Regions from separate parts of the Homo sapiens genome. Here regions 1 and 3 are each linked to region 2. Evidence: fine-mapped expression QTL. A gene starts in region 2. Each other region holds a variant in brackets. All regions are shown on one strand. Distances are between the middles of the regions.

What was found. PIP is the estimated chance that this variant, and not a neighbour inherited with it, causes the effect.
Region 1: its variant is the best candidate, but not a certain one, in a credible set for the expression of SRPK1 in whole blood (TOPMed, PIP 0.65).
Region 3: its variant is the best candidate, but not a certain one, in a credible set for the expression of SRPK1 in whole blood (TOPMed, PIP 0.65).

The regions. Positions count from the first base shown.
Region 1 is chr6:36,017,266-36,020,117 of GRCh38, forward strand. It overlaps SLC26A8 (solute carrier family 26 member 8), which reads right to left. Exons shown (of 20, transcript NM_052961.4): 2 at 2,255-2,444. The coding sequence starts at 2,442. Among named protein-coding and RNA genes, the nearest start is that of SLC26A8, 5.9 kb to the right of the region's middle. The variant G/A (reference allele first, on the strand shown) is at 1,546.
Region 2 is chr6:35,919,623-35,922,122 of GRCh38, forward strand. SRPK1 (SRSF protein kinase 1) reads right to left here and starts at 1,476. Exons shown (of 16, transcript NM_003137.5): 1 at 1,422-1,476; 2 at 846-906. The coding sequence starts at 1,434. RefSeq lists silencers at 1,139-1,728, 1,759-1,818.
Region 3 is chr6:35,844,283-35,847,134 of GRCh38, forward strand. All of the region lies in intron 13 of SRPK1 (SRSF protein kinase 1), which reads right to left. Among named protein-coding and RNA genes, the nearest start is that of LHFPL5, 40 kb to the left of the region's middle. The variant G/A (reference allele first, on the strand shown) is at 1,429.

The DNA.
Region 1 (2,852 bases), 98 kb after region 2:
GTTTCTTAAATATGGCACCAAAAGTCCAGGCAACAAAAGAAAATACAGATAAATTGGATTTCATCAAAATTAAAAACTCTTCTACATCAGGTGCGGTGGCTCACGTCTGTAATCCCAGCACTTTGGGAGGCCGAGGCAGGTGGATCACCTGAGGTCAGGAGTTCAAAACCAGCCTGGCCAACATGGTGAAACCCCACCTCTATTAAAAATACAAAAATTAGCTGGGCGTGGTGGCACCTGCCTGTAGTCCCCACTACTCAGGAGGCTGAGGCAGGAGAATTGCTCGAACCTGGGAGGCAGGGGCTGCAGTGAGCAGAGATCATGCCATCGCACTCCAGCCTGGGCAACAAGAGTGAAATTCCGTCTCAACAAAACAAAACAAAACAAAACAAAACACCAAAAAACTTTTCTACATCAAAGGACACTGTATCAACAGAGTGAAAAGACAACCTGCAGAATGGGAGAAAATATTTACAAAATTATATAAGATTTACAAACATCTATCTGATAGAAATTTAATATCCAGAATACATGAAGAACTCCTATAACTCAACAACAAAAAGACAAACAACCTAATTTTACAAAGGACAAAGGAAATGAATAGACATTTCTCCAAAGAAGATATACAATTAACCAATAAACACACCAAAAGATACTCATCACCTTTAGTCATCAGGAAAATGCAGAACAAAAGCAAAAACAAAAAACCACGATGAGATATCATTTCATACCTAATAGGTTGGCTATAATTTAAAAAAATGGAAAATAACAAATGTTGGAGAGCACATGGAAAAATTGTACATTGCCAGTGAAAATGTAAAGTGGTGCAGCTACTGTGGAAAACAGTTTGGCAGTTCCTTAAAAAGTTAAATTTACCACAGATTTATGATGTGATTCAACAATTCTAGTCCTAGTTATAGGACTTCAAACAGATCTCCTGTGCCAATGTTCATGGCAGCATTATTTACAGTAGCCTAATGGCGGTAGAAACAACTCAAATGTCTGTTAACGAATGGATAAACAAAAATGTGGTATATAAATACAATGGAATATTATTCAGCCATAAAATGAAATGAAGTTCTAATACATGCTACAATATGGATGAATCTTGAAAACATTATGCTAAGTGAAAGAAGTCAGACACAAAAAGACAAACATATTGTATGATTCTACTTAAGTGAAATAGCTAGAATAGGCAAATTCATAGAGACAGAAAGCAGAAGAGAGGTTACTTGGGCTGAGGGGTGGGGAAATAGGGAATTATTGCTTAACAGAATTTCTGTTTGAGGTGATGAAAAAGTTTTGGAAATAGCGGTGATGGTTTCACAACATTGCGAATGTCAATCATGCCACTGAATTGTATATTTAAAAATGGTCAAAATAGCCAATTTTATGTTATACATATTTCACCACAATAAAAAACATTTAAAAAATTATTCTGAAAGATGTTGATTAACTTTATCAGACTGCTAGAAGGTTCAAAGCACAAAAACAGGGTAAGAGCCCCTGAACTGTAGGACCTAGCTAGTCACAGCGGGTATCAGA[G/A]GTGGTGGTGGTAGATTCTACCTTAGTGACCATGAGTACCACCATGTGGGCACTGTTGGATATGAGACTAGAAGAATCTCATTCCCCTACCATTAATCAGTCCACCATGGCTATCTTATTTATTTATTTTTTTTGAGACAGAGACTTGCTCTGTTGCCCAGGCTAGAGTGTAGTGGCACAATCTCGACCCACTACAACCTCCGCCTCCCAGGTTCAAGCAATTCTCATGCCTCAGCCTCTTGAGCAGCTGGAATTACAGCACGTGCCACCACGCCCAGCTAATTTTTGTATTTTTAGTAGAGACGGGGTTTCACCATGTTGCCCAGGTTGGTCTCAAATTCCTGGACTCAAGTGATCTGCCTGCCTTGGCCTCCTGAAGTGCTGGGATTACGGGCGTGAGCCATTGCGTCTTGCTGGCTATCTTATTTTTGGTCGGGAGTCTGGTAGTCATGGTTGATTGAACAATGGAATTATGAAATATCCTCCTTAGGTACCATAGGGACATCCAAGATCTTTATGCCCAGGAAGTTTACAATCGAAAAGGTACTGCAAGACAAACCACAAAAATGACTGAAGAAAAATTGCACAATAAACTGCATGATTCTGATTACAGGAACTCAGACAAGAAAGAGAAACGGACCCCAAAGGAGTCAGGTTAGGTTTCAGTCCTGCCCGGCTCGGCAGCAGGTGAAAGATTGGACACACGCACCGGCACTGGACGTGGTGTCTGAAGGTGGTGATGTTGATGTTCATGTTCCCAGAAGAGGAGGCCTTCCTTTTGTGTTCCTGTTGAAAGGTCTCCTCATTGTATACTTCACGCTTAACATCATATGCGAATGAGTTTCGCCTGGACTTAGAGCTGAAGCCAGAGATGGCGCTCCTCTCTAGTTGTGCCATTCCTGGATGAGTGGAAAGAGAGCAAATAAAAGAGCATTTTCAGTAATCCAGATCCTCGGCATATTTTTAAGGAAATAAAATTCCTATATAATAATGTTTTACACTTGCATAGCATCTTTCAGTTGTAAAAAACTCTTTCTCAAAGTTGTATAATTTTATGTGTATTCTTTTCATTTTTCAAATGGAGACAACAAAACCCAGAAGTTTAAACAGTCTTTGCTGTTTGATACTTATTAGAGCCAGGACTAGAACCCAGGTGTCCTGCTGGGAGGCCTAGTTTTCTTTATATTCAGTTGTGTTATGTTGTAGGAAAATGATCAAGAGGTGGACAGTATTAATCAACAATTTTCACTGAAAATGCTCACTATCCAGCATATATGAAGAAGTCCAGATGAAGGGTTAAGTGCTCA
Region 2 (2,500 bases):
GTTCTTAAGGCTTAGCCTCACTTGCTGCTAAGCCTGCTACCTGAGTTTCTACTAGGCTGTGACCAACTTTTGAACTTGCCACGATAGCACTAAACTACTGTTATGCATCCTACTGATAAAACTGGACATGTGGCGCTTAATACGCCAAACCAGAATCATCAATGTTTGTTAAAGAACTCTCCCGTTACTATTGTGATGTCCACTCCGGAAGATTATCTGCATCTGGTTGAGGTTTAGACAGAAGAGAAGCAGTTAACAGACACCGACTGTATACACAGCGGTCTGCCGGCACACTGCAAAAAAGCCGATACGCCTTACAGGCTCAGGAAGTTGACTAACCCAGGGAAAAGCCCCATGCCCTCCTCTATGAAAGGGAGTGTGTGGTTGGTAGAACCCAAAGTAAACACGGAAAAATTCATTCAAGAATTTCCTTAAGGCCTACCGTGAAGACGTCGGAGGCAAGTTAAGACGTTGGGGAGCAGGTAAGAGAGACCAGAGTTCAGAAACAGACCGATAATGATCTACCAGCTCCGGTGGGGAGGTCCAAGCTAGGGGAGTTTGTGCCTCCTCTGTGGAGTTGGGGAGGAAAGGTACCGGGCGGGCTCTGGTCCTCCTCCGACAGCCCTTTCCAGCAGGCCCGGGGCTGCTAAGACCCAGGCCTGGCGTTGAGCAACAGCAGCTCTCTTCCACATGGTTGCTGGAGAGCGACCCTCCGAGCTGCCCCGAGGCCATGTGGCTGCAGCCACAGGGTGCCCAAACCCGGTGCACGTTCAAGACGTGAAACCAGAGCAGAGAAGGTGCCGGAGGAAAATCCAAAGAATGGGATGTTGGGGTACAAGACTCACTTCCTTTGGGCTTTGTCCTTCTTGGCCTTGGTCCTTTTCTTTCGGGCCTGGAGCGCAAGCACTGCAGGAGAGAGGGATGGATGAAGGGCGAATGTGGAGGAAAGGAGGCGACCAAGGTGAGGGTGGAGACCCAGCAGGGGCGCCAGGCCCGGCTGCGGGGCCTGCCTCGGGGGCGGCTGCGGGCTCCGGCGAGGCGGCCGGCCGTGGGGCTGGCGGCCCACGGGGCGCAGAGCAGCGCCCGGGCGGGATGCGCCGGAGGGGTCTCAGGCCGGGTCAGGGGGCGGGCGGGTGGGGGTCTGCGTCGCCCGCCAAGGGCCGGGCCCTGGAGTGGCCCCAAGGCGCGAGCCGGCCTGGCGGGGAACAAGGGGCGGCTACGGCCGGCGCCAGAGGACGCCCGGACTGAGGGGCGCGGACCCGCAGCCCAGAGGCAGGGGGTGTGGGGCGGCGCCACCTCAGTGGAGGGGCGCCGCACGTCCGGGAACCGAACCGCGGCAGTTAAGCGAAGCTCCCGGCGCTGACCCGGGCCTCGCCCCGGCGACCATTGCCCCTCGTGGCGGAGGCCGCTCCACCGCTCACCTTTCCGCTCCATGGTGAGACCGGTAATCGCCAGGCGCCTGCGCACTCGAGTGGCGGCGACTCCCGCTCCCGCCGCGGCCCAAAACCGAGCCCGCTCACACTCCGCCCTCAGTCCCGCCCCACCCCCGCCCCACGATGCCGCGCGCTTGCGCGTTGGGCGCGGAGCCTACCACCTGCTCCCGAGGAGGGGGCGGCAAGGAGAGGGAGGGGGCGCAGCGGGGAGGAACGCCGGGGTGAACGTTGAAGGAGTGTTAGAGATCCAAGCTTGGAAACCTGGCAAGGTTAGTTTTGTTCTATTTGTTTAGAAAAGGCGCAGAGAGCGGCAGGGCTCTCTGCATGCTGCTGAGTCAGAGCTTCGGAGGCAACTGGGATCTGCCTCAGTTTCCTGGCCTGTAAAATGGATTAATCAGGCATGTCCCAGTTTCTCCTTCCCTGAGCTATTGTGAGCCCAGTTGAGATACTATTTAAAGAAAATGGAAAAAAATTACATGTGAGAAAGAAAAGGGAGTGGGAGCAACACAAAAAGACTGGAAGGAAAGAACCTGTGACCCTATTATCACTTGAAAAGTAAAAACTTCAAAAGTGAATTTTCTCTTGAAATTTCAAGTTTAAGTGAAAGCTGTAAAGGAAAGAAGGGGAAATGAGAATAAAAACGTTTAATGTTTTCTTATTCTACCACCTTCAATACATGATAAAGCTGTCTTGTTTATAAGTTTTTTTTGTTTTTATTTTCTAAGTGCATTATCTCATTTGATGTTTATGGCAACTTAAAGGCAAAATAGTTATTACTTCCATTACACAAAGACACTAAACTTAAGAGGGCCTGCCTATATGTTCAGAATCTTGGTGTACGACCCAGTTATTTAATCATGAAGCCCTTATTGTATAGCAGGCTCAGCAAAGTTTTTCTTTGGGCCGTACAGTAAATATTTAGGCTTTGTGGACCATAAGATCTCTTTCTCAGCTACTCAACTCTGCCATTGGAGCTCAAAAGCAGTCATAGAAAATATGGGCTGTGTTCCTATAAAGATTTATGTATGGACACTGAAATTTGAATTTCATATAATTTTCACGTCATA
Region 3 (2,852 bases), 75 kb before region 2:
GTGAGCCACCACGCCTGGCCAACAGCAGTTTTAAAAAATGACCTTATTGATAGGGAAGCACAGTTATAAAATAAGCGCTAGTCATAGGTCAATTTTGATTAAATCAATGGTACTAAGCAGTCCAAACAACCTCAAGAACTGTAGAGTCCAGGACTTAGTTGGGGCATATTCTCAATTTAGACCCAAGTTTAGGTCCTGGTGGCTCACCAGTGTCAGTTTCTGCAGTTTCATGACAGAACAGCCTTTCTCAAAACTGTACTACCGTCCAGAGGGAGACCACAAAACCAGAAGTTTCAGGATAGGTTTAGGAATCAAATACTATCTCTAAATGTCAGCAGTGCTATGGCTTCTTGCTTGGCATTGCTTATTTTACATTTCAGTTGTTTATTAAGAAACTGAACCACAGTGATAGAGCAGATACTTGTTCTACCCTGAGTTGTTCCGAGGTTTATAGTCCCAAAGCAACAGAGAAACAAATCATGATTCTTGTTCACCAAAACTTGTCAATCATTCCTGATACCAGTACTTTAAAAAAAAATCTCATGGTCTCATATATAGAGTTCAGTAAAAATACTGAAATTAAAGTTAAAAAAAACAAAAAACAAAAAACACAGAGCCAGCCGCGGCAGTGCTATACGCCTGTGGTCCCAGCTATTCAGGAGGCTAGAAAATGAAATACTCTTCAGTGCTAAAAAGAAATGAGCTATTAAGCCGTGAAGATATGGAGGAACCTTAAATGCATATTACTAAGTGAAAGAACCTAATCTAAAAAGGCTACATACTGTATGATTCCAACTATTTGACATTATGGAGACAATAAAAATATCAGTGGTTGCCAGCGAGTGGGGGACGGGAGGGATGAATAGGCAGAGCACAGAGGAGTTTTAGAGCAGTGAAACGATATTGTATATAATAATGATAGATACATTTGTCAAAACTTCTAAAAGAGTGAAATGAAATGTAAACTACTGACTTTGGTTAATAATGATGTGCCAATGTAGGTTCATTGTTTGTAACAAATGTATCACTCTGGAGCAGCAGATCGACAGTTGGGGAGGCTCTGTGTGTGGGGAGCATATAAAACTTATTTGTACTTTTTGTTCAATTTTTCTGTGAACCTAAAACTGCTCTAAAAAATAAAGTCTATTAAGAAACAAACCCAAATAAAACCAGTGTACCATCCTTTGTTAACCTTCTCTAGACTATTGCCTTTGAGAAGAATGGCTTAGAAGATAGCATGAAATGCATGGAAAAGTTAAAACAATGACAATTTAAACAGACTAATTACATTCAGATCCAGAAGTAAATTGCAAACTCCAGGTAGCAGAAAGGAATACTGACACAGCTTGAGGGGCAATCTAGCATTTCATAAGCAATATGGTTGTGTGTGGTCAGAATGCCAAGGAGTGATTACCAAACAGAAAATGA[G/A]GAGTTTCAGGTAAGAGCTGTTTCTATAAAGTAACATGTCCATCATCTGTATCAATGGGCTGGCCAATGGCTGTCTCAAAGTGAGGAAGACAAGTCAGAGTCCTGATGCTTGGCCTTCTGCAGAGATGCAGGTGTGCTCAATGTATTAACTTAAGGGCCCTTATCTTGACCCCAGGTTTGACCACATTAAGAAAGGCTGAAGTGCTGGAAATGTTATTTTAGAAAAAAGGAATTAACAGATGATTCAAATTTCCTGTCTTCAACAATCCATACCAAAGGGAAGTAAAATTCCAGAGCAGGGCTGGAGGCTGGAACAATAAAGTCTGTTTTAAATTTAAAAGGTTGCCAAAGAATAGGGGAAAAGGGAAACACGGAGTTTTTCTTCAATGGTATATAGAGTTTCAGTTTAGAAAGATAAAAAATTTCTAAAGAGGCCAGGTAGGGTGGCTTACACCTGTAGTCCCAGCACTTTGGGAGGCCAAGACGGGAGGATTGCTTGAGCCCAGGAGTTCAAGACCAGCCTGGGAAATACAGTGAGATCCCATCTCTTAAGAAAAAAAAAAAATCTAAAGATATGTTGTATAAAAATTTGAATATAGGCCAGGCGCAGTGGCTCATGCCTGTAATCCCAGCACTTTGGGAGGCTGAGGCAGGTGGATCACTCATGCTCAGGAGTTCGAGACCAGCCTGGGCAACATGGTGAATCCCGTCTCTACCAAAAATACAAAAAAATTAGCTAGGCATGGTGGCACATGCCTGTGGTCCCAGCTACTCAGGAGGGTGAGCCGAGATTGTACTACTGCACTCCAACCTGCGTCCTGCATGACAGAGTGAGACTGTGTCTCCAAAAAAAAAAAAAAGACTAAAAAAATCAGAAATGAAGAAATGAAAGAGGAGACATTATAATGAATACCACAGAACTACAAAGGATAAGAGACTACTATGCACAATCATATGGCAACAGATTGGATAACCCAGAAAAAAATGGAAAAATTCCTTGACAATATAACCTACAAAGATTGAACCATGAAGAAATAGAAACAAGAGATTAGATCTGTAATAAGAAGTCTCCCATCAAAGAAAAGCCCAGGACCTGATGGCTTCACTGCTGAATTCTACCAAACATATAACGAAGAAGTAACAGCAATCTGTCTCAAACTGCCCCTGCTACTGCCAAAAAAAGACAAAAACCATATGATCATCTTATTAGATGGAGAAAATGCATGTGACAAAATTCAGCATCCTTTCATGATAAAAATGCTCACACAATTAGGTATAGAAGGAATGTACCTCAACACAATAAAGGCCATATTTAAGAAGGCCACAGCTAACATTGTACTCAATGGTGAAAAATTGAAAGCTTTTCCTCTAAAATCCAGAACAAGACTCTCCCCACTTCTATTCAACATAGTATTGTAGTATTG